Linked DNA regions of Homo sapiens: all the other regions are linked to region 1. The links come from fine-mapping of genetic effects on gene expression. A gene starts in region 1. Each other region holds a variant in brackets. All regions are shown on one strand. Distances are between the middles of the regions.

Evidence for each region.
Region 2: its variant is fine-mapped to the expression of DIP2C in whole blood (INTERVAL, PIP 0.93).
Region 3: its variant is fine-mapped to the expression of DIP2C in blood mononuclear cells (TOPMed, PIP above 0.99).
Region 4: its variant is fine-mapped to the expression of DIP2C in cerebellum (GTEx, PIP above 0.99). The same link has a PIP of 0.9 or more in cerebellar hemisphere.

What each region holds. Positions count from the first base shown.
Region 1 is chr10:685,118-693,219 of GRCh38, reverse strand. DIP2C (disco interacting protein 2 homolog C) reads left to right here and starts at 3,552. Exons shown (of 37, transcript NM_014974.3): 1 at 3,552-3,726. The coding sequence starts at 3,642. RefSeq lists an enhancer at 2,242-3,177.
Region 2 is chr10:478,766-486,867 of GRCh38, reverse strand. It overlaps DIP2C (disco interacting protein 2 homolog C), which reads left to right. Exons shown (of 37, transcript NM_014974.3): 2 at 338-409. Among named protein-coding and RNA genes, the nearest start is that of DIP2C-AS2, 150 kb to the left of the region's middle. The variant C/T (reference allele first, on the strand shown) is at 3,664.
Region 3 is chr10:498,392-506,493 of GRCh38, reverse strand. All of the region lies in intron 1 of DIP2C (disco interacting protein 2 homolog C), which reads left to right. Among named protein-coding and RNA genes, the nearest start is that of DIP2C-AS2, 130 kb to the left of the region's middle. RefSeq lists an enhancer at 5,869-6,815. The variant C/A (reference allele first, on the strand shown) is at 4,776.
Region 4 is chr10:537,538-545,639 of GRCh38, reverse strand. All of the region lies in intron 1 of DIP2C (disco interacting protein 2 homolog C), which reads left to right. Among named protein-coding and RNA genes, the nearest start is that of DIP2C-AS2, 87 kb to the left of the region's middle. RefSeq lists an enhancer at 3,400-3,900. The variant A/C (reference allele first, on the strand shown) is at 3,439.

The DNA of each region.
Region 1 (8,102 bases):
AAGATGGCAAGGTGTTCACCAACCACACGTTCCGCAAGGCTGCTCACAGGTGGAGCAGAATGAGACCGAGGAAGGGGCTGCTCCTCTCCGCTCCTGTGCTGGTCTGCACTTCCAGACAGAGGCACTATGCTGTTTGTGGTGTCAGTCAACACAATGGGACAATTATAGATAAGCCAGCCACCAGACAAAACACACACATAAATGACCAATCCCAGGGAGAGCAGGTGGATAAAGAGGTGTGTAATTCCACAGGTGGGAGAGAATCTTTCTAACCAGGAGATTTGGGAAGGCTGCATGGAAGAAGTGGCGTTTGAACTTGGACTGGACTGGGTGAAATTCCGTGTGCGGCTATGACTCAGGTTGTGGGGAAGGGGAGACGACAGGAGGGAGCACATTAGAAAAACAGACACCACAGGTGGGGACTCTCCATGGACAGCTGGGAATTCTGCAGCTGAACCTCGGAGCTTGAAAGAGACGGGAGGAACAGAAAGCAGGAGAAATGTTTAGTGCAGGGCTCGTGAGACCATTGGTGTCAATTAAGGATTTCTTCAGTTTGCAGGCATAGAATCATGGGTTGTACAGCAAGGGGCCTGTGGTCTGTGCTAAGAGGGACTTTTTAGAAGAGTGATCTGACAGCCGTGGTGGGAAGACTGGAAGGAGGCTCTGAAGGCCTGACATGGGCCATAGCCAGAGGCCTCGACAGGAGCAGGTGGCGCACAAGAGAAATGCTGTGGGTAGAAGTTCTTGAGGGGACTCAAAGTGAAAGGGAGGCTGCTCTCAGAAATAATGTACATGGGGGAAAGTATTGGTAGGTAGGATGAGTTTGATTGTGGACAGCATGAATTTCAAGGAGATGGTAGGAGTTCCAGATAAAGATGATATCTATCAGGCTCCTGGAAATGGCAGTCTAAGACCGAGAGCCCACACTCACACGTGTAATGTGTAGGTGCCCAAAGACCTGCTGAAAGGAACCATCAGCTCAAAATCTGAGTTTGCAATTGATGTGTTTAATGCAAATTACAAGTTTTCTTTGCAACCAACATCAGTCATAGGATCATATGCAAATGATTAAGGCCCATCAAAAAGAATATATATATATATATATATATATATATATATGTATTTTTTTTTTTGAGACTGAATCTCGCTCTGTCACCCAGGCTGGAGTGCAGTGGTGCGATCTCGGTTCACTGTAACCTCCACCTCCCGGGTTCAAGTGATCCTCCTGCCTCAGCCTCCTGAGTAGCTGGGACTACAGGTGTGTGCCACCATGCCCAGCTAATTTTTTGTAGTTTTTAGTAGAGATGGGGTTTCACCATATTGACTAGGCTGGTCTTGAACTCCTGACCTCATGATCCACCTGCCTTGGCCTCCCAAAGTGTTGGGATTACAGGTGTGAGCCACCGTGCCTGGCCCGCGAATATATATTTTTTATTCCGACATTATACCGCCCTAAATGGACTTGACACCATTTATTGCTTGGAATGCACAGTGCATCTTTGCTGTAATGAAATGAACTCAGGGCTTTGCTTTGGAGACTGGGGTTTGAATCCTGGTTCTGCTCCCCTTTCTGTCTCTAAGGACTTTTATCTGTGACGTGTAGGGGCTGTGTGGGATCTTCCCCACGGCCCCTGCATTGCTGGTCGGTCTCTTTATCATGCAAAGGGGAGAGATGATGGTGGGGCCACATGCTTGTGCCACCCGTATCTGTTGCATTGAACGCAGTCTGGAGCGAAGGACGAACCCACGGCGCACACCAGGCGGAGGCACACGGCTCGGCGCAGGAAGCACACGGGTTTGGGGTTCCTGTTTCCCAGCTCATCGTCGAATGTCATTCTCACAATTCCCCACTGAAAGGACCGATCCTTACAGGAAATGCACACACCTCTGGCGGTTGCCACCACTGCTAGATCCATGGGAAGGGCAAAGGTGGGTGAGGCATGGGCTCTGTCCTCCAGGCGCTTACACTCACAAAGAATACAGAGAAGATAAAAAAGGTCAAACGTGATGAGGGCGGGAAGTGGCCGGTGCAGGAAGAGAAAGGAGAGAGATTGTTCTGGACCTGGGGTCAGGGATGGCTGTGGGTGGCAGGGGCAGAGAAGGGGCAGGCTCTCCGGGGTGGAGGCCGGGAGCAGAGGTGCTGCGGGTCAGCCGCGTTGTTTGCAGGAGCCGGAGTGTGGAGGCCGCAAGGCTGCCGTGCAGGTGGGTCCCGGCTGGTGGGGGCTCCGGTCGAAGCGGGGTGGGGGGGTGGTGGGGGGTAGGGGTAGGGGGGTGAGGTGGGGGACCTGTGTTCCTGCGGCCCACTCTGAAAGGGGAGTGAGTGCAGCTGGGCCTCCGGGAGCCAGCGCTGGCCAATGTCCCGTGGAGGACGGGGAGGCGAGGAGGTCTTTAGGAAGCTCTGGGCCTAAGGGAGGGGCCGGGCTGGGAAGAGGGGGTACAAGGATGAAAAGGAGGCCAGGTCGTCGGGGCTTTGTGCAACAGACTGGGGAGGATGTGTGGAGACAGAGGAAGGTGATGATGAAGACAACGGGGGCGGTTCTGAGAAGCAGAACTTCCAGTGACTAAGAGTCACTGGAAGCAGCTGGCTTCATTTAGGGTTTGTGGCGTTTGGGGTGTCTAGGGGCTTCCAGGGAAGTTTGCTCAGTGGACGGTTGGAGATGCGAGGGCCTCCCCAGATGGTCAGGACTAGAGGCACAGACGGGGCTTCAGCCTCGCCGAGGTGGCACTGAGGCTGGGAGCTGATGGCCCCACAAGGAGAAGGACGGTGGGAACCCTGGGGCCTGCAGCCTGTTCCGGGAGGGCTGGAGCCAGGCTTTTCGGGCCCACCTGGCATTTGGAGATTAGGTGACCCAACCTTGTCTTCCCATCCCCTTTTCACAGATGGGGACACTGACCCTCCAGGCAAAGGCTCAGAGTCGCTCAAGGTCATCTGCTGGTCGTTGCATTCGAAACTTCCAGCCTAGCGCTCCGTCTCCGCCTCTTAAAATGTTCATTAACAAAAAACCAGCCCTCCAAGACCCGGGGCACTGCGAGTTTTCGCGCAGACGTCAAGCTGCGGCTCCAGGACGTGATTTTCGCAGGGAGCCGGGTGGACCAGGCTCTGGGGCCGGGCCCGCAGGCTCCGCTGGACGCGCAGAGCCCAGGACAGACAAGACCGCCCCGCCCCGCCCCGCCCCGCGGGCCCCGAGCCCCCAACCCGCCCCCGAGCGCGCCCCCGGGAGCGCGCGCTTCGCCGACGCGGCCGCGCGCCCCCCCGCGCGCTCCCGCTCCTGCGCGTCCTCGCGCCCCGCGCGCGCGCGCCCTGCCCCCGCGGCCCCGTGACGCGCGCGCGCAGAGACGCTCCCGCCGGGCCGGGGCCGAGAGCAGCAGGGCCGGGTCCGGGTCCGCAGCGCCTGCGGGGAGGGGCCGAGCGCGCGCGGGGCGGGCCGGGGACCGTGGGGCGCGGGGGCGCGCGAGGCGGCCGTGGCGGGGCCGCGCTGAGGAGGCGCCGAGGGGAGGGAGGTCCCTGCGCGCCCGCCGCCCGCCTCCCGCGCCCGCGCCGCCGCCTCCTCCTCGGTGCGGTTCCGCCGGGCGCGAGGAGCCGCCGAGACCTCCGCCTGCGAACAAAGAGGAGGCCGTGCGGGGCGCGGCGCCCGCGGAGCATGGCGGACCGCAGCCTGGAGGGCATGGCGCTGCCCCTGGAGGTGCGGGCGCGCCTGGCCGAGCTGGAGCTGGAGCTGTCGGAAGGTAACCGGGCCCCCGCCCCGGGCCGGGCCGCGCTGTCACCGGGGAGGGCCGCGCGCGGAGGGCTGGGGGCGCGGGGCCTGCGGCGGGGCGGGGGCCGGGCCCGGAGGGGGAGGTGCGACCCCAGCCCGGAGCGTGCGCGTCCCCCGGACCCCCAGACCCCGCGCCCTAGGGACGTTTGTGAGGCCGCGATCCCCCGCGCTCTGGGGACGTTTGTGGGGCCGCGATTCCCCGCGCCCTGGGGGTGTCTGTGGGGCCTGGGATCCCCTCGCGCTCTGGGGGTGTTTGTGGGGCCGCGATCCCCCGCGCCCTGGGATGTTTGTGGGGCCGCGATCCCCCCGCGCCCTGGGGGTGTCTGTGGGGCCTGGGCGCCGCGCGGGGACGCAGGATGCAGCGGGCCCGGCGGGATCGGCCTTCCCGTGCGCTCTGCGCTGGAGCCGCGGCGTCCTTGGTGCAGCAGCGCGGTGCGCGCCACCTCCTCGCTGGCGGGTTCGGCCTGGAACGCCCGGCCAGATTTCAATGCGAAACTTGTCGTTGGACCCCGGGTTCGATCTCTGGTGGCTCAGGCCGTGCAGCGGTCCTGGCGCGGCCCGGGGGATCCCACCCCCATTGTTCGCGGGCGCTGCGCGGGGAGGGCTGGGCGGAATCGTCAACCTCCCCCCGGGCCGGGCTCCGGCCTTGCCGTCCTGGTCCTCTCGTAGGAGGGTTTGTGGCAGATCAGCCACCGCGGTCTTATGGAGGGTTGTGTACGCCTCTTATTTGCTCTTCATGGCGGAGATCATGTGCTCAACTGTCATAAGTTTCAGATCGGGCTTTGCCAGGTCTTTTCCCCAAAACCACTGAAGTTCCCAAATCTGAAATGTTTGATGTGCATTTAGCCGTCTCTGGGCTCATCCTGGTCAGGCCATTCCTGTAACGTGGGGTGGGGTGGGGGTGGGCCGGCGCGTCTCACATTTATATTTGGAGCAGTTTAGCATGGTGAACTTTTTTTGGGTAACGGTTTTGTGAGGGCCGGCAGCCAGAAAGTAAACTCATTCGTGCCAATTTTCACCGGCAGGGAGGAGCTGGTGTTGACTTTATGTTTTCCTTTTTAACACTTTCAGGGCAAAGAAGGGAGTGAGCAGGGGCCATGGTGTGCAGCCAACTGCCTTTCCAGACTTCTGGGGACGGGAAATGGTACTGTTTTTCAGTTTCAGATGTGGGGTTCCGCGAGGTGTGTCAGTGTCCTGTAACGTGACACAGTTGGCGGGGGGCAGAGTCTTCCAGGCCTGTGGGCTTGGCTGCTGCCCTCCTGAGGAGCTGAGGATGAGGAGGGCATGGCTAGGAGGCGGGAGCTGCCGTGTGCAGGGTTCGGATGTAAACTGGTAAGTAGATTGTGCAGTGCAGACAGCTCGTTTGGTGGGTAAGGAGTGTATCATTTGCAAAAGGCCCACCCTGGTTATCTGATTGTGTCAGCCTTGGGTAGGTTTCCCGGCTTGCGTCTCGGCCCAGGTGCACCCCTGCCTGCAGCACCCTCCGTGTTCGCTGTCTCAGGACAGGGGCTTCTGTGCTGCCTGCATCACACTGATGTGAAGTGTCAGTGCCCCATCCAGGTCAGCAGAGCGTAGCGCCCCTGAGCTCAGCAGGGCGAGCCCCATCTGAGGGTTCCCCCACCCACTGCTAGCCCAGAAGTTGGACCCACATTTGTTCCCAGAGTCTGGGATGTCTATGGGAATGGGTGTCCTGTGTTGGGCATTGTGGCCTTTTGAGGTGACGACACTTGCCTGTCAGTTGCTCTTGGAGGGTGAGTGATACTGTCTTGCTGCCCAGATGATGGCAAAGCCACTTTCGACGAAGGTGTGCTCAGCCGAATTCCCTGTGAACACCTTGCGTCTGTACAGGTTTTTTAAAAAGGGCTTAATGAGTTAGTTTCTTATTGAGAGACCAGGCAGAGAAAGGGGTGTGTGTGTTTGCATGCAGGAAGCCTAATTATATTTTTCCTTCCACATGAATCTTGCTGAGATCTGAGCTACACATTTAAGAAGAAAGGGTGAGAGGGTTGCTCCGTGGCTCTATTCAGCCTCTCTGCACCCTCCGGCCTGTGCTGGCCCCACTGCCTCATCTGTTTGCTGGATGGTCTTTAACTTTGCTGTGAAGTGTGGGTTTGCCCAGGTTGAGTTTATGGGGGTAGTGCTGTAAGGTCATTTGGAATTCTCTGTCTCATAACCACATAAAACAGTTTTACAGGCTTAAATTAGATGAATCAACTTGTTTTCCAGTATTGCTTAATAGAAATCCAAGAATTGAAGGATCAAAATTCTGTGTTTCTTTATGTTATTGGACTTCAAAAATTCCTCAATGTATCTGCTTTCAGAGTGAAAGCTGAAAACAGCTGTTAATGCTGAATTATTTCCCATCTTCAATCAAAATTCAAGTGGAGAGAATTCTTTAAGTTGGTTGTCATCATTTTATTAAAATATCAGAAAATATTATAGAAACATATGTGGAATTTCCAGTGCTCATTTCCTACAGAGGAGGATGGAAAAAGTTCCGTTTTAAGCACATAACATAGACTGAAGGAAAGAGTAGAGCATTCCCCTGAGGTTCCTGTGTGGGCTGCCAGCCTGCGTGGGTTACGCATTGTGTGGGTTTCTAGACCCTGGTCCAGTTCTGCTGTGCCCGCCTGCTGGGCGCCATTACATGCACTGCTGGTGTCCTGCTTTGCAGGGCTGCAGGGGCACTTCCTGCTGCGGGGCCGAGGGCTCCATCCTTCTTCCACTGCCTGTCCCTGTCCCGTGCCCTGTGCCCCCTCACAGGGGAAGGTGAGGCCAGCTCACACCACAGAGCATGCGGCCAGCAAAACACAAGGGCTCTCTGTGGGGAGAAGTGCTGGGCAGCCCTCTTGTGGGAGCTGATGGCCTCGAATCCATGTGGGGATACATTCAGGTTGTGTGGCCAGGGGGGTCATCTCCTCACATACTTGGGTCTGAGTGTGAGCCAGGGAGGAGGCCATGCAGGTAAGGAGGCCACACGGTCAGGAGGCTGTGTGGGTGGGGAGGTTGTGCGGGTGGGGAGGCTGTGTGGGTGCGGAGGCTGTGCAGGTGGGGAGGCCATGAGGGTGCGGAGGCCCCTCGGGTGAGGAGGCTGTGCAGGTGGGGAGACCACGTGGGGGGAAGGCTGTGCTAGTGGAGAGGCCCCGCAGGTGGAGAGGCCGTGAGGGTGCGGAGGCCCTGTGGCTGAGGAGGCCCTGCAGGTGAGGAGGCCATGAGGGTGGGGAGGCCTCCAGGTGATCTGGAGCTCCATTCTGGGGAGGGTCAAGGAATGAGAGGGCTGTGGCGGCTGCTTTCTCATACTCCTTTCCCCAGAATATTTTCTTCTCCCTTCTCTTCCCTACATTTTTGCCCTTTATAATTGGGTATTCTTTTTTGTGGCTTTAAAGGGCCTAAAAATAATTTCATTAATAACTGATACTTTACATGGAATTGCCAAACAAATTGGAGTGGAAGCAGAAAACTTCCCCATAAAGACAAACTCATGTCTTATTTATTTTTTAATTTTTGAGACGGTCTCACTCTGTCTCCCATGCTGGAGTGCAGTGGTATGAGCTCAACTCACTGCAACCTCCGCCTCCTGAGTTCAAGTGGTTCTCATGCCTCAGCTTCTTGAGTAGCTGGGATTACAGGTGCCCGCCACAATACCTGGCTAATTTTTGTACCTTTGTAGAGATGGGGTTTCATCATGTTGGCTAGGCTGGTCTCGAACTCTTTACCTCAGGTGATCCGCCCGCCTCGACCTCCCAAAGTGCTGGGATTACAGGCATGAGCCACTGTGCCCAGACTCATGTCTTATTATTATTATTATTATTTTAAAAAAGATTGCATTTAGCTGTTGATTCAAATTAGGAAGTAAGTTTCTCTGTTGACTGGTCACTGATCTTTTTGGGCAGTGCATGCTTCAGAAGGAGCTCTTTCCCATTTGTTTAGGAGGTGCTGAATTATTTTGATAGAACTCATAATATAGCCTGCAAAAATTGTTGGTTTTTGGTGGAAGAGAAGTTTTGAAAAATAGGTGCCATGCTTTGTACTCTGTGGCTTTGGTAATTGTCAGCGTGTTCCATGCCCACTGACTCCATCCTCCATGCTCTGCTCTGCTAGTTAATGTAGCCGATTCCTTCAGCGAGCAGTTATGCTCCACAGTAGTGCAGCCTAATGTTTTTTCAGCAGGGGAGAACCTGCTTGCAGAGGGAGGTGAAGGCTCGCGCACGTGCCAGGTCTTCCTGTGTTGGTTGAGGGACCTGTGTGCGTGTGTTTATATATATATATATATATATGTATATATATATATATATATATATATTTTTTTTTTTTTTTTTTTTTTTTTTTGGGGACCAAGTTTCACTC
Region 2 (8,102 bases), 210 kb after region 1:
AGTTAACGAGAGCCCCGGCCACCAGGCTTGGCTTCCTGTGCCAGCGGGTGGGGATGAGATGGCAGGGGTCTAACCCTGGACCCCATCCGGATAAATACAGAAGGGGCCAGAAACAGGCGTGTGTTTAACAAATGAGTTTTAGTGACTTACATGCTGTGGGCTTTTGTTCGAGAGCAGGGGAGGAACTGAAGTTGTTTGATGTGCAGTGCTTGCTTTTAAAATTCTAACAATGAGGCACACAGAAGATACTGTGATAACTGTGTCTTCTTGGGCACCGTTGAATGATAATGCTCTATCCACGGAGACCATACTGAACTTCATTTTCCTTCTCTTGCAGGTGACATCACACAAAAAGGATATGAAAAGAAGAGGTCAAAGTTAATTGGAGCCTACCTTCCGCAGCCTCCGAGTAGGTAACCCCCATGAGTAGCATGAGTCCTCTCATTTCCCGCATTCACTATGTGCCAGAGAAACATCTGGAGGCAGACGCTCCCTTGCTTCCCAGTCGGCAGGAGGAGGCGTCTGGCGTTCACCCTCCAGGCATTCAGTTCCTTTGAGTGATCACACGTGCTGTGTGAATATACAAGGCACAGAGGATTTTTCTATAAGTGTGCCTAATAGGTGTTTTCTCTATAAGTAGAGATCGGTATTGGGTTGGTTACTTTAAAATGCTATAATCGTAAAAATATGAGTGCATTAGTGATTTCAACATATTTGGTTTAGAGAGCTATTTATTACTATTGATTCTGGTTTAATCCAAGGCTTCTGTTGGTGGCACAGGCCAAATCTAGACAGTGCTGTGATACCCCGCCCAGGACTTGGCAATCGTGAAAGCTGGTTGTGTGTTGAGATGTGGTTGCAAACATCCATGATGATTCTTGAGAAGGGCAGTCGGTTTCCCGCCAGCGTTTCTACGTGTGCAGATTGGCAGCTTTCCTGCACTTGAGCTGGGTTCTGTAAATGTCAGGAAAAAGAATCTCATATTAGATGGGGATTCTAGCACCTCAGTTCCCAGCTGGCAAGCTCAATTCAGCCCAAGAGCGACCTTGAAAATTTGGTAGGCTTGAGGAATGGCTTAAAGCTAACACAAGCAGTTTCTTCCTCAAACATAAAGGCTAGCAACATAAATTTTAAAGGTGGAAATTGAACTTGCATAGTTCTTACCATTGAAAGAAGATTTTAGAAGGTTTAAGGATGCACATGTCCACACCTGCACAAACCCCGATTCTGTTCTTCCCGAGGCCCGTCCGGGTCCTGTTGACTCAGTAAGGAAAGTTTCCTGAGGCTCAGGCTGCAGGAAACGGTGTGGAGATTCTGCTATTGGTAGTTTTGTTTTCATTTCGTGTTTTTCTTGCCTTGATTTTTGAGACAGTGATGTAACAGTGAACATGTTTCTGTGGACCTTGCTTAGCAGAGGCTTAAGTCAGGGATAGACGCCGAGGAACCCGAGAGAAGGGGAGCAGAGGGCTGGGCTGGAATGCTGGGGCGAGAGGCTTCAGGGCAGTGCTGGGTAGATCCCCTGATGGCCTGCGCCCCCTCCCTCATTCTCTTCTCGCAGAGCCATGGGGCGACAGCTGCCCCCGCCCTGTCCCTGTGAGTTCCCCTCTGCAGGTGCCCTCATGTGCTGCAGAAGGTGGGGTCTGACTGTAGGCCACGGACGCTGTTGGTTTTAACTTTCTTGCCTTGCCAAACAAAAGTGAAACAGAAGCGGTTCCTCGCTTGCCAGGACGGTTCTCCAGCGCACCGTGCCTCCCGCGGTGGCCCTGGCCTTAGCCGGGCGCAGAGGGCGGTCGTGCCCTGTGGTCCCCTTGGTGGTCTGTGTGCTGTCCTGCATGGGGTCGGCAGCTCTGCTCAGCGCTGTAACAAATTTAAAAAAAACTAAAGTTTGAATTAATTAGTTTTTTTTCAACTTGTTACAGCAGCGAATGGAGCTGCCGTGGTTCGGTGTAGACTGCAGCACAGTGAAGGAGCGCCGAGGAGAACATTCCGCTCTGCCCACATCGGGGTGTGCGACGTCCGAGAAGCTGCGGCTCGGGAGCGGGTGGCCAGCACCGCAGGGAACCGGCCTCTGTTTTACTTTCGTTTCGGTGAGCGCTGCTTTGCTGAGAGCCAGCCCCACAGCAGGGTACACATTAGAAAAGGGCCACCCGCCGAGTGCCATCCCGTACAGACGTGTAGGGTGTGGCCTTGGGGGCCTGAGGGTCCCATTCTCCAGTGAGCCAGGTCGCTCCACAGGCCCAGAGCTCGCCAGAGACCAGGTCTGTCCCTGTGAATCAGGGCCCAGTTCTGCGTTTCCTATTGAAGTAGAACGTTGCTTTTACAATTCCCCTTTCTCAGTTGGGCACCACTTAGAAAACACTTAAGAAGAATGCGTGACAAATTATAAAACTTCTTAAAGCCACTGGTATTCTACAGACTTTCATCTTATAGCCAAAGACCCAATTAAAGGATGAGCTGATGGGTCTTGGCCTCTGAGATCTGCTAGAAGGAGTGATTTTGAGATTTCCATCTCCAAAGAGCAAAGTAAGGGTTTTTGAAATAGAAAAAGCAGTTAATCATAGAGTATGTTCTTAGAGGTAAGGATTCTGTTCAAAGGTAAGAATTACTTTGGCGGACAGTATTTTGAATACAGGAATTTCATGATGCAAAAAGGGAGTTCAGTGCATTTTCCACCAGAATGAAGAAAATCATATGCAGGTGGAAGTTTTAGGTTCGTGTTCAGGGTTACACTTCAAAATGTGTTTTAAAATCACATACAAGGCCGGGGGTGGTGGCTCACGCCTGTGATCCCAGCACTTGGGGAGGCTGAGGAAGGGGATTGCTTAGGTCCAGGTGTTTCAGACCAGCCTGGGCAACAAAGGGAGTCCCCGTCTCTACAAAAGAAAAAATTAGGCATGATGGTGGGTGCCTGTGATCCCAGCTATATGGGAGGCTGAAGCAGGAGGATTGCTTGAATCCAAGAAGTCAAGGCTGCAGTGAGCTATGATTGTGGCACTGTGTTCCAGCCTGGGGGACAGAGCGAGACCCTGTCTCAAAAAAAAAAAATTGGTAAAATGAAGTCATAGAGGCAAACTTTATTATTACAGTTGGCCACTGGGGTCTCAGAAGAGGACACCCCGCCTCGCCTCCTGGCCTCCACTGCGTTCCTCCTCTCTGGGCCCTCTCAGGAGCCCTCTCTGGGCTGATTCCCTCGCACCCTCTCAGGAGCAAGGGGCAGAGCTGATGAGAAGGCGACAGGGCTGGGTTTTAGCCACGAGGTCCATTTCAGAATTTATCTGCCGGAAACGTGAGGAAAACAGGAGAAGGACGGCCCGGGCCGCCTGATTGAGGCCCAGACACCAGACTCAGGATGGGGGGACTCCGGACAGCGGTGCTAGGGCCCCAGCGAGGCTGTTTCCCTGCCGACCTTCATTTGGAGACGTTGCTTGTGACACGCAAGTGTGCACCATGTGCAGCTGTCCTGGGAAGCAGCAAGGAACGCAGACGTTTCCAAAGCCGAGGCTGCTTTCTTGGTTGGCCCCATGGGACGTGACTTCCTTTGTGCAGGATCTTCGTGGAAAACATCTTTCTTTCTTGTTCCCCTGTGCTGCTGCGCACTTGCCTGTAAGGGGTTTGTGTTCTGATTAACTTCCACCCTTTTTTCCTAACATTTACATTCCTATT[C/T]CTCCAGAAACTATTCTAAAAGTGTTTCTAGGATGTTGTTTGGGATGCAGAATTACGAGCTACAATGGGGGTTCTGTTCCCTAGGCCAGCCAGGCACGTCCCAGCTGCTCAGGAGGGCAGCGTCTGTCGGGGCCTCCAGTCGGGATTCAGAAGTGAGCGTTGGTGCTGAGCACCTGCCTAAATCTAGTTGAGGAAAAGACTGTCCGGAGCCAGGAAGAAATGTGAGTTATACATGCAGTGAAAGAAGGGTCAGAGAGGGTGCCTGGAAGATCATCTTCAGGGAGAAGACGCTGCTTAGGGAAGCTGCCCACTTCGCTCTCACCCTTCTGCGGTTCAAACCCATCCCTCATCAGTCTCTAAGCCCAGTCAAAGTTGTAAACCTAGGAAATAAAATCCACTGCCTGGCAGCCTCTTCAGAGAGATCTTAATAACAGTGTCGACTTGGATAACAAGGCCTCACTGCTTGTATGACACAGGCCGTGGAGATTTAGAGAGTAAAATTTCAGTGTGGCTATAAATGGTGGAACCTTCTTTGCTCAGATACAGCTCCTCTTTCTCACAGCAACTTCTTATGTGTTTGTCTGTGAAATGTTTCTTGGTATTGAGTGATTTATGAAGATCTGGTATTCCTCTCCAAGCCCAGCTTGCTTTTCCTTCAATAGCCGGACAGCTTGATGCCCAGGTGCAAGTTACAAGGACTCTGTAAGGGGGTTTGTCTGTGCGGCACAGCCTCTCTCCATGAGGTCACGTGAGCGGCCTCTCCAGGGAAGAGGTATCCGTGGTCAGTGTGAGTTAAGCCCCACACTTTTTCCATCATGGGGTCGCGTGAGCAGCCTCTCCAGGAAGAGGCCTCCCATGGTCAGTGTGAGTTAAGCTCTACACTGTCTGCACCGGAGGCCTCTGGCCTGCAGGCTTGCACTGTGCTGTCCAACTGTTGAGTCAAATCACAAATACGGACTTGTCTCAGTTCCTCCCTGCTACCAGGGCTCCCGATGGCCACGCCGCTGTCCCTCCCGACAGCCATGCCGCTGCATCCACATGAGGAACTCTGCTCAGGCCGTGCACTTGGCCGTGTCCAGGTGGCATTTAAAGCTCAGTTTGGATGCTCTGTCCTGAGGGATTTCTCCCCTGATCCTTCAGTCAGACCATCCGGATTCCCATCTCCATGTCGTCCTGTCTCTGAAATACCACTGTCATAGTTGGGTGGTGGTTACTAAACGCTAAGTCTCCACCCCAACCCCCAGCAGCAGTATGTAAATCACCTGAGGCCCCGGCTGCCTGCTCACGGAAAGTGGACATTGGGCAGGTATTTGCTGTATGGATGTGTGGGTGCGGCACGGAGGGGCTGAGTCTGCCTGTGGGGGTGGGCCGGGGCAGCCCTCACTTCCCCCCGCCCCACTGAGTGACCGTCCCTACCGTGGTACGAGGATGGATGTGCAGTGTCCCTGAGGGCAGACGCCACCGTGTCCGCATGATGCTCAGATCCACGTGAAGCCCTGAACAGGCACCGGAGACCTTCCACTGCCTCAGGTGTCTATCTGGGCTGCAGTTTTATTTTTATTCTTGATTTGGGTAAATTTAAATGGCAGATGGTAACATGTAAGGGCTAATTAATGACTGAAATGACAGAGGGTAACATGTACCTCAGCACCATCCAATCAGTGGAATTTTATTATCTTTTCAGAACTTGGCTCCCATCCCAGTGTTTGATCCTGTGACTGGATCACATGTTCTCATGAGAACAGCTGCTCTGGCCTGAGTGCTGTTGCTTGCAGTGGCTGCCTTGCCCTGTCGCCACGGAGAGGGCTTCCTCTGAGGTCCCGTTGCAGATTCTCCCACTGGGCTTTGACAGTTGTGAGGGAGGAGGTCCCTGCAGTTGGCATTTGTGAATTTTGCACTTTGGTTACATACGGAATGAGAAAGTTTCTTAAGTACGTAAATGCCATTTTGTTCTGTCGTCTTTAGAAGACGTGGCTGGCTGGCCCTGGCCTGTTCACCTGGGCTGGCCGTTGGTTGTTCTGATTCCTCGTGTCAGCAGAGGCTGTGCTTTCCCGGGGCAGGTGCGCAGTGGGTCCGTATTCTTGTTGTGCCATGAGAGTTACAGTCTGGTGACCCCAAGGCAGCGCTTCCTAGACGTGCTGGGGAGGGACCGCCTCCTCACCTGGGCTGGAGGGTCCCGGGGACCTGTCCCGGGCAGGTTGCCTCCACTTAGGGTCTCAGGCCATGTGGCAGCTCACAGGGTAAGGGTGTTTTAAACTTAAATCCCAGAGGAGGGGAAACGTGGGTGTCCAGATGGCATTGCCTGTGACATAGCGTGAATCTTTCTAGACCGCGTTGCTGTAGTGACAGGTGAATCACCTGTGTTCCAGATCAGCCGTGCTCCCGTCGGCACTTCACAGGGTACCACGCTTAGCTGCCGGAGACGTGTTCTGCCACAGGGAGCTGTCAGTTTGATCCCGTACGTTTATTTCCTGGTCTTTTCAGCAACATTTAATGAATCGCATTCCTCGTCTTAGGCGCCAGCCGCTATGGAGGGAGTGCAGCTGAGCCTACGCCATGCGGTGTGTCTCCAGTGGGGAGGGTAGCACCCACTTTGGAACTGCTCACGTGGGTTTTGTGAAAAATCCGAGGTGTAAGCAAAGTGCAGAAACGTGAAGGCCCGGTCCTGATGGTGAGATTGGCATCTCATCCAAGGAGCGTGGACTGGAGCTCGGGCTGGTAGATGAGACCGTCATCCAGTGAGCATGGACCAGGGCTCAGGCTGGCGGGTGAGACTCATCCAGTGAGCGTGGACTGGGGCTCAGGCTGGTGGATGAGTCTTATCCAGTGAGCATGGACCGGAGCTCAGGCTGGTGGATGAGACCCTCATCCAGTGAGCATGGACCGGAGCTCAGGCTGGTGGATGAGTCTTATCCAGTGAGCATGGACCCCGGAGCTCAGGCTGGTGGATGAGACCCTCATCCAGTGAGCATGGACCGGAGCTCAGGCTGGTGGATGAGACCCTCATCCAGTGAGCATGGACCGGGGCTCAGGCTGGCGGGTGAGACTCATCCAGTGAGTATGGACCGGGGCTCAGGCTGGCGGGTGAGACTCATCCAGTGAGCGTGGACCGGAGCTCAGGCTGGCGGATGACACTCATCCAGTGAGCGTGAACCGGGTCTCAGGCTGCCGGATGAGAACCCTCATCCAGTGAGCGTCGACTGGAGCTCAGGCTGGCGGGTGAGACTCATCCAGTGAGCATGGACCGGGGCTCAGGCTGGCGGGTGAGACTCATCCAGTGAGCATGGACCGGAGCTCAGGCTGGCGGATGACACTCATCCAGTGAGCGTGAACCGGCTCTCAGGCTGCCGGATGAGAACCCTCATCCAGTGAGCGTCGACTGGAGCTCAGGCTGGCGGATGAGATGCAGACGTCAGACTCTCCCGTCCCTGGATCACTGACAATTTCCAGTGTATGAGTCCCTAATCAAGTTAAAACATTATAATAGGAAAAGGGTTGCTAAGCAAATATATACTGATGTGTGGCAAAGATTTGGGCTCATGAAAGATGGATAGAAAGGAGGACAGTGTGGGGACGGGCGCATTGGCTCATGCCTATAATTCCAGCACTTTGGGAGGCTGAGGCGGACAAATCATGAGGTCAAGAGTTCAAGATCAGCCTGGCTAACATGTTGAAACCCCATCTCTACTAAAAAATATTAAAAATTAGCCAGGCATCGTGATGGGTGCCTGTAATTCCAGCTCCTCGGGACGCTGAGGTAGAAGAATCACTTGAACCTGGGAGGCAGATGTTGCAGTGAGTGGAGATTGCGCCATTGCTCTCCAGCCTGGCAACAGAACAAGACTCCATCTTAAAAAAAAAAAAAAAAAAAAAAAAGCAGTGTGAGAATTCATGGGGTTAGGGCAGGTGCTTAGAATGGAATTTCAGTCTTACCATTGTATGATGTTCCCATCCCAGTGAATACAAGGAAAATTATTAAATTTCTTACCAGTGTTTACAACAGTTGTCCTGTTTGCTTTCTGGCAAAGTCCTTGATTGCACTTATTTTAGAAAGTTTTACGATGTGAACAAGAGCATGTAATTGAGACCTGGAGAGAATGGGACTGGATTTAGAAACTGCTCTGGGACAGACCTGAAAATACAGAAAAATCCCCGGCAGTTTCACTAAGGGCCCAGAGCAGGCTTCTCCTGCAGGACACTCCTGTGGAGGCCTCTGTGGAGCCCAGAGCGCTTGCCCCTGGGTGCTGGGGAAGGAGGGCAGGAGAGCCTCTTGGCCCTCCTCTCCTCCTCCCTCCCTACCCCTCTCTTCCTCCCCCTATCTTCTCTGGGAGCTAAGGTGAGCCATAGAGACGTTGCTATCTGCACCCCCAGCACGCCCGGACACGCGATGAGTGAGAATAAGATGGGAATTTGGATGTATCTGCACGCCTGGACACGCG
Region 3 (8,102 bases), 190 kb after region 1:
TCATGACCACACGCTGGACTTGAGCTGTGGGAGCCACATGGACAGTTGAAAGCCTCAGACCCCAGGGCTACACACACTGAGATTTCCCAACTGCCTCTCCCCAGGCCTTGGGCTGATCCCCCTTGCTGCTGCTGTCCCAACCCCTGACATGGCACAGCTTCCCTCTCAGAAGATGTCATGCAGCTTGTCTGCTCTTCATAAATCTTATGCACATTTGGATGCCTTAGCTTCATGCAGAAGTCCTGCAAGCAGGAGAAAATGGAGCCTTGACTCTGGGCTGGTGGTCTCCAGGCATCTCTCTCCAGCTGCATCCCAGCAAGTCAAGGTTATTTAAATGTGTCTTCCGAAGGGTAACGAGCATGGGAAGCATGTCAATGCCATGCAGTGTGAGGTGGTTCTGGGAATAACAGTACCTAGCAGCACATACCAGCACTCCCTTGTGCTGCCAAATGTGACATCGTGTAGATGTCACAACCTCCTTTTGTCACCTGCGTTCCTAATCCCCTGGATTTCTCAGCTTCTTTACTTCTCCAGGAGAAAACCTGCCCCATTGTCCTGTTACCTCTGAAAGGGAGTTTTTACAGCAGGAGATGATGCTGTAGCTGTCAGTGTAGGCACATGCAGCATCCTACTGTTGTCAGGTGCGCCCAGAGGAAATATGGCTGGGCAGGTGGTCCCCATCTCCTGTGGTGTCAGGGGCACCCACAGGAAGCACAGCTGGGCAGGCAGCTCTGTCTCCCTGGTGTCAGGTGCACCCAGAGGAAATATAGCTGGGCAGGTGGTCCCCATCTCCTGTGGCGTCAGGGGCACCCACAGGAAGCACAGCTGGGCAGGTGGCTCCATCTCCCTGGTGTCAGGTGCCCACAGAGGGAATATAGCTGGGCAGGTGGTCCCCATCTCCTGTGGGGTCAGGGGCACCCACAGGAAGCACCGCTGGGCAGGCAGCTCCATCTCCCTGGTGTCAGGTGCACACAGGAATCACAGCTGGGCAGGTTGTTTATTGCCAGGAAGTACAGCTGGGGATCAGTCGAGAGCCTCAGGCAGGGGGTTAATAGATTGGAAAGGTTGAGAACCTTGGCTTGATCACTAACACACAAATTGTGGCAGTAGAAGGTGGAGATGCCCCTGTCCGTTCCTCAAATGTTTTGCTTTCTCCTGTTTCCTGAAGAGCGTCTTGTTGCCTCCTAAGATAGCTCCTGCGTGTATATCTGTATATCCTTGTAGAGGGACTAGAGACACTGCTGGGAAGTTAGTGACTCTGTGTTGATGAGGTGCCGGTTATTAGTCTGTTGCCTTAAAACATCAGCAATTGGAATTGCTCCTCGGAACATGACTGGACCCGTTGCCGTTTTCTGTACAGTTTTCTTTTGGGGAGATGCACACGGTTCCGGGAAGGGTGCTGGGCTGCAGTAATATGGGTGTGGACACAGGTCCCATCAGAATAGTATCCCTTGGAGGGCAGGGTGGGGATCCCGCGGGTTCACGGCGGTTTTGCTGAATGAATGAATGAATGAATGAACGAACCTAGCACTGAGAGTCACATGAGCTCATATGGAAACAGCTTGGAGTGTTGAGAAATGGAGATTGAAGAGCTCACCTCTTCTCTGAGTATGACGGGGTCAGCACCGCTGGAGCTGAGGGTTTGACATGCAATGAAAGCCGTGATGCAGCCATAGTGCGATTTGGTTTATATAGCTATTGCCTTCTGTTATGAAGCTGAAAAGAACCAGGTTAGCGGCCACCTGCTACTCAGGCCTTATGCTTTCTTAGGAAACAGTAAGATGTACTAAATTTTTAGTGTTAAAGTGACAGAACATGGGAACACGGGAAGCGTCTCATCTTGTCACTTGTGACTTGGACACGGAGCCCGTGGGTGCTTCTCTCCATGGTCAGACTTGGTCATGGAGCCGTGGGTGCTTCTCTGCATGGTCAGACTTGGTCACGGAGCCGTGGGTGCTTCTCTGCATGGTCATCTTGCAGCTTCTGAGTCCCATCCTCGCTCTCCCGGCCTAAGGTGGCTGTGCTAGGGATCACACCTGCAGGTCTGACGGCAACATTGTGTGCTGGGTTTCTCTCCCAGGACTTCCAGGTAGTTCGTGCCTGGAATAGTTCCATGGTAGCAGGGTATCAGCGGGTGGCCAGCCTCGGCACGCCTGCATGGATTTGCCGTCTCGGGGGTGGGAGCCCCATGGCAGACGGCTGTTTCCCTTGCGTGCCTCTTCCAGCGTGGCCTTTATTCTCCACAGGGCGTTGGAACTGATTTTTGCACAACAGTGATTTGACAGTGATTGATACGCTGTGGGTCTCCAGCCCAAGGAGATGGGGATAAATACTCTTTATTGCTCTTTCATGCTCTGGTTAGGAAGGCAGTTAGGTTGAAGGCTGCAGTTACCACCTGTGTGTGTCGTGAGATGAAGAGAGAGTATTTCCATGAAATCCTCTCAGGTTACAGAATTAGACCAGTTGTATCTATAACCCAGAAGTTGAAAGCAGTTGACTTTAAGTGTGATCAGGAATCTGGAATTTAATTTCTGAGTAAAATAATTACTGTGGAAATGAGTCTTTGGACTTGGAATTGAAATCAATGGTTGTAAATTTAGGGTAAGTCACAGTAATGGGTTTAGACAAAACGTCTGATGTAGGCGGCAGAGATTTTCAGGTGTATATAGAACCGTGATGAAAACCATAGGGGACAAAGGAGGATTGTCCTGTCCTGAAAGATGTAAAAATGCGGTTACAAATGCAGACCTCAGTGTGCATATAGAGGCCAGCAAACGTTAACTCGGTGTTTGGCACAGCAGAGGGGTAAGAGCCGAAGGAATATTGCTGGATGTTCTTCAAATGACTCTTCCCTCTCAGGGTGGAAGCTGTGGTTAGCACCCACTGGTTTTGGGTCTGTCAGTGACGACTCCTGGATGGTCAGGTGGTGCTCTCAGAGAAAGAGGCTAGGAACACTTCCATGGTTTTCCGCCAGCTTTAAGATACATCTTTGTAGCCCTTGGTTCCATTTGTTTCTCCCTTGTAGTTTTATTTTGCTTGTTAAATTTATGTATAGTAGCACTGCCACTCTCTTTTGTGGTCAGTTCTTTTAGTTTCCGAGTGCTTATTATGTCCATCCACTTCATTGAAGTGTCTGTTCGATCTTTGCCAGTTTTTAAATTGGAACGTTTATTGTCCTGTTTCTTTCCCTTTCATGTAACTTTTAGCTTGTCTGCATCTACAGAAAGTCCTGGCAGGATTTATGTTGGAATCATGATAAGTCCGCAGGTCGGTGTCCTGGCGGGATTTATGTTGGAATCGTGGTAAGTCTGCAGGTAGGCATCCTGGCGGAATTTATGTTGGAATTGTGGTAAGTCCGCAGGTCAGTGTCCTGGCGGGATTTATGTTGGAATCGTGGTAAGTCTGCAGGTAGGCGTCTTGGCGGAATTTATGTTGGAATTGTGGTAAGTCCGCAGGTTAGTGTTCTGGCGGAATTTATGCTGGAATTGTAATAAGTCTGCAGGTCGGTGTCCTGCCAGGATTTATGCTGGAATTGTGGTAAGTCCGCAGGTCAGTGTCCTGGCGGGATTTATGTTGGAGTTGTGGTAAGTCTGTTGGTCAACGTGGAGAGAATTGGTGTCTTGACTGTGTTGCCGCTTCTCCTTGGACTCGTGGCTCAGTTGAGGTAGCTCTTTCCTTTCTTTCTTCAGTGTTTTGTGGTTTTCTTCATACACATCCTCTGTGTGCTTTGTTAAATGTATACCTAAGTGTTTTTTATACAGCTACTGTAAATAGTGTTGTTTTTAACATTTAGGTCCCAAATACTAATTGCCAATACGTAGAGTACACTTTGACTGTGTGCTGTGACTTGGCTGAACTCAGGTATTGGATCTAGGACTGACTTTTGTAGATCCCTTGGGAATTTTTATACGTAGGCTTTTGGTGTGACTTGAGTTTCCTCCTTTCTGTTTTCAGTTTCTTTGATTTGTGCTCATTATGATGTCTTTTTCTGGCTTTGAGTTTAACATAGAAGCTTAGATTATGGACCTGAGACCTTACTTTTTTCGAATATGAGCCTTTCGTCCTATGAGCTTACTTCCCATCATTATTTTGGCTGCATTTCATAGATTTTAATTTTTGTTTCAGTTCACTTGAAAAGTATTTTCCTTTGAACACTCATGGTGGTTTTATTTAGTTCACCCAAATCTCATTTTAGCAAAAGATAAAAATTCATGTAGGTTTAGTTCCTGTGTGTGCCTCATAATATCTTCACATTCTGTGCATTGACCAGTAAATGATTGGGCTTATCAGGGAGATGGTTGCATGGTATATTGGTGTTGTAAAAACTATGATGTGGGAATTTGAATGTTTTTGAGACAGGGTCACTATCACCCATGCTGGAGTATAGTGGTGGAATCATAGCTCAGTGCAACCTCGACCTCCCAGGCTCGAGCAATCCTCCCACCTCAGCCTACTGAGTAACTGAGACTACAGGTGCATGCTGTCATACCCAATTAATTAATTTTGTTTTTTGTAGAAATGGAGTTTCACTATGTTACCCAGGCTGGTCTTAGACTCCTGGGCTCAAGTGATCCTCCCACCTCAGCCTCCCAAAGCACTGGGATTACAGGTGTGAGCCAGCACACCTGGCCAGGAATTGAAGTGCCACGAAGGTGCAGAGGTTTTATGTTTTGTGTTCTGATATTGCCAAATACCTGGCACAGTGCCTGGCCTGTGGTCGGTGTGTAACGCATATTCCTGAATGAATGGATATTGCGGTGCCTATGTGTTGAATT[C/A]AATGTAATTTCACTCAGTTGTGTTTCTCCGTGCCAGTCCTTTTGCCTGTCTGGACTGCTTTGTTCTGCAAGTCACCTTGTAATACGATCATATTCTTCGATCGGTTTTGCACTTTGATTATTGACCTTTTTTTCATTTTAAATGAAGCCTCCCCATTCTTTCTGATCAGATATTCTCATCTTCCCTCTATAATTGGGGTAATATGGTATCAACGCATGTGTTTTCATAAACATATTATTATAAAAATCCTTGAATACATATGTGCTTACATAAACAGGTTTGTTTCATAAAAGTTGGTATTGCAAAGCAGAGATCTTAACAAGTTCTACTCATAATGTATCAATGAGTATAGGACTGCATACATTCTACTTTATTTGCCTTCTAAATAAAGTATATTCTTAATTATTGCCACTTAATAAAGGTTGGGCAAGATCTTCTAGAAAGGATGTTTCCACAAACTAAAGTGTGTACTATCAACATTATTATTTAAATAGCTAGTGAAACCATCAAAATCTTACCACATTTACATGTTGCACCAGGAATCATCTCTGCTTTCCTCCCTGCAACTCAGTATTTTTGACACAATGTGAATTAGTGCACAGGAAGCCTCAGTGTTTCCTGGAGGGTTGCCCGCAGCTCACTGGCCTCAGAGAAAGTCATAATGTGTGTACAAACTTCTCTGGAATAACTTGAGCTTATTACATATAACTTCTGGTAGGTCATTTGCCCCCTCCGCTCTCCAAAAGAAAACCTCAGGCCTCTTAAATTAACTACAAGCCTTTTTGGGACTGAGCCATTATTTTACACAGCAAGGTTGTCAGAAAAAAAATAGCTTTAAGGATGATAGAAAGATCTTAGCATTTTCTGAAGCCTGAAACCTATGGGGGGAGACATCGCAGTCATTCCTGTCCTGATGGGACCTGGCCTGTCTTGTTTTGTTATCCATTGCTTACCCAGATGAGGTGATTTGTTTAAGAAAATCATTGGAGTCATTGAATTAAGCATCCCTGTATTTCCAGCTTTTAAAAGATTTTAAGTTAAAATACAACTTTTTAAATCTTTTATCCAGCGAACATTTGGTGATATTGTGTCTGTGTTTCGTGTGCACTTTGTTTTGTGTAGGATTTCTGTTTTATGTACTCTGTCCATTGCATGGCACACAATAGGTATTAAATATTTGGGGGATGAATGAGGAAATAAAGTTCAGGATAATTTCTATGGCATTTGGAAATTCTCGTGTAAAACCTAGGCACGTACAGTGTTCCCAAACAAGGGCCAAGTGAAAGCTGCAGTATTTGTTTGATTAATTACTAAGGAGCAGTCACTTTCCCTTCATGTATCCTGGACTTGTGGGGTCACAGGACCTACTGAAATAGTACTGTATAACGTCTGCTGGAGCAGCCAAGGGCTGGTGGCTGCAGGTCTCAGGAAGAGAACACAGAAGTAGCCATGGGCCCTGCTCCTGAGACAGGCCAGGGGTTGGCTCTGAACCCACCTTTGCCCCAGACGCTGATGAGCACAGAGGTGGTTGTCAGGGAAGCTGGCACATTGCCTGCAGGGGTCCCTGGCAGGTACAGATGTAGGGGAGGGCCCAGCTGAACCCACATCTGCTGTGAAGGCTTGCAGGAGTCTGCGCTTGCTGAGGGGGCCCTAGTTTTATTCCCTGGGTCTGAACTTGCTCTCAGTGGCCCTGTCTGCCTTCAAAATCCACCCGAGCAAGAGCTGGGCTTAGGGTTGGGGCCCCTTCCCCAGTCCCATTGTGGCAGGGTCAGGTTACTGGAGATAAGTCCTAGTCAGCACCTAGGCTATTAACAAGTTCGAGGGGCTGGCATATCCATGCTTGCTCTATGATAAAGTCAACAATTTGGCAGATGGTAACTAGACATTTCAGAGTTCCTTTAAAATGGTGTTAGTAAAGCCCATGATACGGTTTGGCTCTGTATCCCCACCCAAATCTCATCTCGAATTGTAATTTCCATAACCCCCACATGCCAAGGGCAAAACCTGGGGAGGTGATTGGATCCTGGGGGTGGATTCCCCTATGCTGTCCTCGCGATTGGGAGATCTCACGAGATCTGTTTTTTTGGTAACTGTGTTCCCTTCCTGCGACCTGCAGCCACCAGCCCTTGGCTGCTCTGTCAGATATTATATGGTACTATTTCAGTAGGTCCTGTCCTCCCCCTCGCACACCTCCCTCTCACCTGCCGCCATGTAAGATAGGCCTTTGCTTCCCCTTCGCCTTCTGCCATGATCATAAGTTTCCTGAGGTCTCCCCAGCCATGTGTAACTGTGAGTCAATCAAACTGCTTTCCTTTATAAATTAGAGAGTCTTGGGCAGTTCTTTATAGCAGCGTGAAAACAGACTGATGCAGCCCAGCGGTCCACAGAGGGGGAGCCCAGCCGTCCACACAGGGAGAAGGTGACAGTGCAAATGCTGCTGTCAGGGCTGCGCTGCCAACGAGCAGCCAGTCAGCACCACATGTGGGAAACCTCAGCTGTGTAGCCATTGAGGGGTCAGGGCTGCAATGCTGACAAGGAGTCAGTCAGCATCGCGTGTGGTGAACCTCAGCTGTGTGACCATCGTGGGGTTCAGCCATACTGTTCTCATTGAGCAGCCCATTTTCAAAGTCTGAAAAAGGATAACAAAATAATAGGACTGAAGTTTTCATAGTCAGTGCCTTGCATGAAAACTGGTGGTTGAGAATTCCTCAAGGAAAGCAGAAGTTGTTCTCCGAGTCAGCAGTGCTGTGCGGTGCAGAGCAGCGTTGGTGAGAAATGCCGGCATGCAGATAAGTAACACCATAGAAAATCCACATTCACAGCTCTCAGAAAGCTTGTTTTATCTATAATTAGCTGGCAGGACTCAACAAATGCGCATTGCCTCCTTAATTCGCCCACACAGCAGTAGCTTTTTTCAGGCCTGGGGTGTTACTGGGAAACGGTGAGTGGGGTCCTGGCTCATCCTGAGGTGTGCTGGAGCTGAGAGGAGGTTTTGTACTTGGGGATGGAGGTTGGGGCACGCTTGAGCCCAGAGTCTTGAGGTGAGCTGACTTCTTCATTGAAAAATTATATTCTCTGGGAAGGAATGGGCAGAAACTTCAGGTAAATGAAATGGAAGTCAGTCATCCCTTGACAGAGGTGCATCTCTGACGAGCCCCCTAAGAGAGAGCCCCCTGGGCAGCAGGGAGGAAGAAGCATGACTGCGCTGTGTTCTACACGTCCTGGTGGGGTCTGTCAGCAGGACCCCTGAGGGGAGGCAAGCATCTCCACTGGCGCCTGCTTCTGTGGCCCGGACTGCTGATTGTGAGTGGAATTAGTTCACTCAG
Region 4 (8,102 bases), 150 kb after region 1:
TTATTTCCTTTGTTCTGGAGGCTGGAAGCCTGGGGTCAAGGTGCAGGCAGGGTTCGATCCTCCGGGTCCTCACCCCATTCTGTGTAGACGGCGTCTTCTCTGTGTCCTCATGGGTTTCTCTTATGTGTGTGCAGCACTGAGGACTCTGTGTGTCTAAATTCTCTATTATAAGAACACCAGTCATGGCTGGGCGTGGTGGCTCACACCTGTAATCCCAGCATTTTGGGAGGCCGAGGTGGGTGGATCACCTGAGGTCAGGAGTTACAGATCAGCAGTGAAACCTCATCTCTACTAAAACTACAAAAATTACCTGGGCGTTGTGGCAGGTGCCTGTAGTCCCAGCTGCCCAGGAGGCTGAGGCAGGAGAATTGCTTGAACCTGGGAGGCGGAGGTTGCAGTGAGCTGAGGTCATGCCACTACACTCCAGCCTGGACAGAGAGAGTGAAACTCAAAAAAAAAAAAAAAAAAAAAAAGGGAAAACACCAGTCATGTTGGATCAGGGCCTACTCTTAAGATCTTATGGGACCTAAATTGTCACGTTAAAGGCCCTGTGACATTTTGAGTTTCTAGGGGTTGTGGCTTTAACATGGGAATCTTGCGGGGACACAGTTCAGCTCATTACACCCTTAGGGGAGAATCCAGGTGAAACTGTTACGTTGAATTAAGCAATGGTTCCTTAGATGAGATGTCTAAAGCATAACAAGCAACTGAAGGGGAAAAGACAGTATCAAAATTAAAAATGTTCATTTCAGAGGTTACTATTAAAGTAAAAAGACACAACCCACAGAACAAGACACATTATCCCAATAAGGGCCTGATATCAAGAATATCTTTAAAAACTTACTCAGCAATGAAAAGAAAATCCAATTTAAAAATGGACAAAGGATTTGAATAGACATTCTCCAAAGAAAGATACATAAATGCCTTAAAAAGCACATGAGATATTTAACAGAATTAGTCATCTTAGAAATGAAAATGAAAACCACCGTGAGATACCACTTCACAACCACTGGGATGGGTAAAACCCCAGTACTGGACGGTGACATGTTGGTGAAGATGGGAAAATTGGAATCTGTATATATTGCTAGTGGGAGGGGAAGGAAAATGGTACAGTTGCTTTGGAAAAGTCTGGCAGTTCCTCAGAAAAGTTAAGCATAAAATCACTGTACGACCCAGCAATTTCACTCCCAGGCATATGCCCAAGAAAACTGAAAACGTTTTTACAAAAAAATCTTATGCAAGAATCTTCATAGCAGCATTATTCGTAACAGTGAGTAGAAACAGCCCAGATGTCTGTCAACAGATGAGTGGATAAAGAAAATTTGCACACAATGGAGTATCACTCAGCCGTAAAAAGGAACAAAAGAACATGTGCTCCAATGAGCCTTGAATGTGAAAGATGCCAGCACCAAAGGTCACACCAAAGGTCAAGCACTGTGCAATTCCACTCACCTTGAACGGGAAAGATGCCGGCACCAAAGGTCACACCAAAGGTCACGCACTGTGCGATTCCACTCACCTTGAATGTGAAAGATGGCAGTACCAAAGGTCATGCTAAAGGTCACGCACTGTACGATACCAGTCACCTTGAACGTGAAAGATGCTGGCACCAAAGGTCACGTCAAAGGTCACGCACTATGTGCCCACTCACGACAGGCGTCCAGAGTGGGCAAATCCAGAGAAACAGAAGTCGGCTGGCGATTGCCAGGGGCTGGCGGAAGGAAGCAGCAGGTGCTGACTCTTAATGGATTCAAGGTTTCTTTTGCGGGTGGTGAAAAAGTCCCAGAATTAAATACTAGTGGTGATTGTTGTGCAGCTTTGAGAATATGCTAAAAAGACTGAATTGTACCCTTTAATATGGGGGATTTTATGGTTTGTAAATGCTTTTCAATGTAAAAAGAAACTAAAGAACTTATTTGGTGTTGATATTTAGAATGCGAAAGAGACTGTATCCAAAACATGTTACTATGTAACTCATGTCCCCAGAGAGTTAAACTTCATTTTCTGAGGATCTTAAAGGATGTGTTTGAGCCTAGGAGACACAACGATCCATACTATATGTTACAGCCTATCTTACTGATTTCTATCTCACGTAACAACCGTATTCAGGGAAAACGGACATGTAAACGTGAGCTGAATGCTCTGCAGAAGCACTTTCCTCTTACCCAGATGGTCTTTAGTGGTGCAGTAAGAGATGTGGTCACGGCAACGTCAGTTTAATTTCCATGGCAACAGGAATTTGGCACATCTGATGAGTTAGATCTCCCTGCACAGCTCCTAACAGGGTTACCCATTTCTGTGTGGTGTCTGTGTACGTTCTCGCTACTGAAATCAGTGATGGCACCTGCACAGACACTTGCCCGGAAATGCGCACAAAGCTGGTGAAGGCAGAGGACAGGCGAGTGGGAAGCATGGTTCAGCCCTTGCAAAGGAGACGGTTATTCCTAACGCAGAAGATTCAGGAACACGATCCTTGCGAAGACTGGTGATGTCCATGGATCTCACTGCTGTCCAGTTGTATCTGTGCAGCGAGTTACCAAAGCTGCCAGAGCCGCATGTGTTGGTATCGGTGTCATCATCATCACTCAATGTTTCTGACTTTTGGTATTGGTGTCATCGTCATCACTCAATGTTTGACTTTTCCTGGTGCTGAGGATGACTGCATGTGGCAGAAGCAAAGTGCTGGGCTTAGAAAAGAACTAGAATCTGATGATCTGTGGTATATAGAGAGGCAGGGTCAGAACCCCCCACTCCCCAATCCCGTAAGAACTGGGATCTGATGATCTGTGGTATAGAGAAGGGGGGAGGGTCAGAACCCCCCACTCCCCAATCTGATAAGAACTGGGATCTGGTGACCTGTGGTATAGAGAGGGACAAGGTCAGAACCCCCCACTCCCCAATCCGATAAGAACTGGGATCTGATGACCTGTGGTATAGAGAGGGACAGGGTCAGAACCCCCCACTTCCCAATCTGATAAGAACTGGGATCTGATGATCTGTGGTATAGAGAGGGGCAGGGTTAGAACCCTCCATTCCCCAATCCGATTGTTGAAGAAATAGTTGGCTTGGGAGGGTTTTTACTCTGAAGGTTGAAGCTGTGCATTTCTGGAGCCTGGGCTGTCGGCCGTAGTGGCTGGGGAATGCTGGGGCTGTGGTCGTCTGGCCGCTGGCAGTCCTGCTGGTGGGTCCTGCCTCTTTGACACCGTTCCTTTCTGAAGCTTGTTTTCCCCAGTGTTGGAAGTAGCAGCACTGGAGGAATGGCCTTCTTCCTACAGCAAAGCTCTGCCAGGAGAGGAGGAGAAGACATAGAGCATCTGTTGAGGGACATGACGTTCTGGGCACTGCACCATGCTTTCTGCTTCTCAGCAGTGCCTCCTGGTTGATGTTACCGTCACCTGGCATCGCCCAGGAGGTAACTCGCAGAGGCAGGCAGGGAGC[A/C]GAAGGAGCTCAGGAGGGAGTGAGCCGTCACAGGGTGGGGGAGGTTCAGGAGCCAGCAGGCAAGTGGGATGTGGCCTCAAGGTGTTGCTGGGTTGGTGAGGGGTCTTCTGGGACTTTTCTGAGAGTGCAGTCAGTTGTAGGGGTGGGTGCCGGCTCCCGCAGATAGAAGAGCCAAGTGTGCAGGAGACCAACGTGTGCACTGGGAGTCCCCAGGGGCGTGTCCTGGCACGCGGCCCAGAGGCCCCTGACAAGGCTCAGTGCACCAGGCACACAGCGGATTGTTGGTGCTTGACCCGACGAGAAGGTGAGGAAGTGAGGTGAGGGGGGCCGAGAGACAGGTGCAGGGATGCACTAGACAGGGTGCAGTCAGGTGGAGGGTCATGCTGTGGGGTCTAGGAGAGACAGGTGTGGTCAGGTGAAGGGTCACGCTGTGGGGTCCAGGAGAGATGGGTGTGGTCAGTGTGGAGGGTCATGCTGTGGGATCCAGGAGAGATGGGGGTGGTCAGGTGGAGGGTCACTCTTGGGGTTCCAGGAGAGACGGGTGTGGTCGGGTGGAGGGTCACGCTGTGGGGTCCAGGAGAGATGGGTGTGGTCATGTGGAGGGTCACGCTGTGGGATCCAGGAGAGATGGGGGTGTTCAGGTGGAGGGTCACACTGTGGGGTCGAGGAGAGATGGGTGTGGTCAGTGTGGAGGGTCATGCTGTGGGATCCAGGAGAGATATGGGGGTGGAGGGTCACTCGGGGGGGTCCAGGAGAGACGGGTGTGGTCGGGTGGAGGGTCACGATGTGGGGTGCAGGAGAGATGGGTGTGGTCAGGTGGAAGGTCAAGCTGTGGTGTCTGGGAAATGTGTTTTTGCTTTTGGCTGAGCAGCTGGACCTGAGCATGTCTGTGCTTTGACATTTAACCTGTGCACTGTCCTCGGCAGGGTGTGTGTGTCTGTGACAGAGGACACCTCAGCCAGAGTGGATGTCGGCGGTGGTGGCCGGACTCAGGGTCCATGAATGTTGCGTGGTAGAACGTGTTTGGTACATTCTCAGCTCCTGCCCAGGTGCCTCCCAAGCATCGGGTGTTGTGGCTCCCCAGCATCGGGTGTTGTGGCTCCCCAGCATCGGGTGTTGTGGCTCCCCAGCATCGGGTGTTGTGGCTCCCCAGCATCGGGTGTTGTGGCTCCCCAGCATCGGGTGTTGTGGCTCCCCAGCATCGGGTGTTGTGGCTCCCCACATCCTTCCCCATCTGCGTGTAGCACGACCACCACCTTCCTACCATGTGTTTGTCCTATCACGGCTGCTGTGTCTAATGCATGCTTTGCTTTCCAGCTACTTTACTATAATCAAAACCCTTGAAAGACTTTACCTGTGTTTCAGAGATGACAGGGTATTAGTCTTTCATGATTGCTCTGAGGATTTCCAAAAGCAAATGCACCTTACAGGATGCAAGAAATGGCAGACAGTAATTAGAGATTACTTTTCTCAGTTAGTCTTTTTATTGTGGTAAAATTACATAGCACTGTGACCATTTTTAAGTGTACGATTTGGTGGCATTAAGTGCGTTCACACTGTCATGCCACGATCACCGCCATATTCTTGGTCTCCCCAAGCTTGAAACTTGGTCTACCAAACACTAGCTTTCCTCCTACCCCAGCTCTGGTAAGCACTACAGATTGCTTATAGAATAGGCTTTTTCAGTGAGAGAAGGGGCAAGGAGAAGAGGACTCAAGACTGTCTTGAGATTTGAGGAAGTGTTTTAGGTTTTGCTCTCTGGTTCCCAGTGTAAAGGAACTATTGAAGATGTGGGAAGGTGGAAGCTCTGTGTGATCTCAGGAAGTGCTGGGCCGGGCAGCTTTCCCCCTGTGACGGGGGCACTTGCCCTCAAACACACCTGAGATAATTGTGTGAGGATGGTGCTGCGTTGTGACAGCTCTGAACTTGGTCTCCTTGAAAGTTTCCAAGTACATAAGCTTTGGCGGTTACCGTCTAGTGTCTGCGGGAGACCTAGAATTTGAACATTGTTGACTTTAAAACACGCACATCATTTTTATAACACTCTACCTGTTCTCATAAATAGGAAATATGCTGTGTCCTTTTTATTTTGCTTTAATATTCTGTGTTGCAGTAGCAGTAGTTGCAGTGGATGCTGCTTCTGATTCATGGTTATTGCCAAACACAAGTTTCTAGAAACCATGTGAAAAGTGAAGGGGAAAGTGGCTTTCTGCAAATGGCTTTTTTGATCATCTTGTTTTTTTCTGGAATATCTGTGGTGTCAAACATTTTCATATTTAGGGGTTTGTAATGTGTTTTATACTGGTTAGCGTTGAAATCCCATGTTTTTGCATATTGTAGGTCTGCTTTATCCTGTTATTCTATGATATAGCTGTTTTTGAAAACTGTTATTTCACTTTAAAAACCAAAGCAGCTTACAGTATGAGTGTGATTCCTTTAAGAATTTAATTGTAAAATTGATTTGTGTTCAATAAACTTACTGGAATGACTAGTTAGATCAGTGGACAAAAAGATAAGAACATGTCAAGTCTCTGGACCAGGAACGACTTCCAAATAATACACGTGACACACAGTAATTTCTTAACAAAAGATTAGATTTAGTACATAACTTTTTAAAACCTCTATATTTTCTATTATAGCCATTCCACAGTGCCCATGGGGGTGGGTTGCAGGACTGCCTATGGATACCAAGGTCTGTGGGCACTCAGGTCCCTGGAATAAAATGGCATAGTGTTTGCATATGACATATGCACATCCTCCTGTAGACTTTCAGTCATGTCAAGATTGCTCATAACACCTATACCATGTACTTGCCATGTGAATAGTTGTTAAACTATATTGTTTAATGAATAATAAAGTCTGAATGCTTAGTACAAACACATTAAAAAAATATTCTTGATCTATAGTTGGTTGAATCCACAGGCCTGGAACCCCAGGATAGAGTACAAACTCTAGAAGCAAAATAAATATTTAAGAATCGAATACAGCAAAGATTAAAGGATTAATATGAGCACTCTATGAAAGGTTTGCTTAATTGATGAGAAATGCCATAGGAATTCAGTAAACCCACAGAATGATGTGAACAGACAACTCGCAACTGAGGTCATATAGCAGATTCACAAAACGCACGGAATGACGTGAACAGACAACTGAGCTCGTAGAACAGATTCACAAAACTCATGGAATGACGTGAACAGACAACTCGCAACTGAGGTCATACAGCAGATTCACAGAACACACGGAATGACATGAACAGACAACTCACAACTGAGGTTCATATAGCAGATTCATGAACACAGAAAAAGTTCTTAGTAGTCATGTACATTTAAATTATGTGCTGCTTTTTGCTAGTGAGCACATTTTTCAAAGTCATATTACCCAGTGCTTACAATTTTTTTGATATAATTTAGAATTGTGATAGTATTAATAGGTACAGTTATCTTTTGTTAAAAAGAAACGTTTTCAATAAGAACCTTAGAATGTTTATATCCCTTCCTGGGTAATTTGAGGTTCTTAGACTTATTTGTGAGGTTCTTAAGTTTGGCTAGAGAACAACAACAAAAACCCAAAACACTGAAACCCAGAGGCTGACAACATTGACTTAGATCTGAGAGCACAGGCAGGCCCCATCATTTCCACGTTGAGACCCTGAACCATCCCTCTCTCACCCTAGCCCCTGTACGGTCCGGACTGGAAGAGTCCAGGATTGTGGCACCTGTTTATGATGAAAATCTTCAGGAGACTGGGCACAATGGCTCATGCCTCATGCCTATAGTTCTAGGGCTTTGGAAGGCCAAGGCTGAAGGATACCTTGAGGCCAGGAGTTTGAGACCAGGCTAGGCAACCAGATAGCAAGATCCCATCTCTACAAAAAAGAACTAGCCGAGTGTGGTGGTGCACACCTGTAGTCCTAGCTACTTGGGAGTGGGAGGTGGAAGGATCTCTGAAGCCCAGAGTTTTAGGCTGGTGTGAGCTATCATTGTGCCACTGCATGCCAGCCTGGGTGACAGAGCAAGACCCTGTCCCAAAGAAAACTCCTCGGGAAGCATTTGTTATCCACAGAGGATACAGAGTCTAGAAACAAAAAGCTTAAAAATTTAAAATACATTCACAGCCAGGCACGGTGGCTCGTGGCTGTTATCCCAGCACTTTTGGGAGGCCGAGGCAGCAGATCGCTTGAGGCCAGGAGTTCAAGACCAGATTGGCCAACATGGAGAAACCCTGTCTCTACCAAAAATACAAAAAATAGCCAGGCATGGTGGCGCGTGCCTGTAATCCAGGCTGCTTGGGAGGCTGAGGCAGGAGAATCGCCTGAACTTGGGAGGTGGAGGCTGCAGTGAGCCGAGATCGCCACTGCACTCCAGCCTGCACTACAGAGCGAGACTCGGTCTCGGGGGAAAAAAAAAAATTCGCAGACGAAAGATAACTGCTCGATATTTAGGGAGACCCCAAGAGCTTTGCTTATTGCCAGAGCAATGGGTTTGCACCACCTAGAGTTGACTTACCAGCCTGTGTCTCGTGTCTTCCCTCATCCCTCTCCTGTTGTCATGTTAATGGGGGAAACACAAGCCTGGCTGAAACATGGGTGATACCCGTGTCCTGGGTGCCCTGGGCACAAGTGTGCGGGGGAGGGGGACGGGGGGCAGGATGCTGGGTGCCCTGGG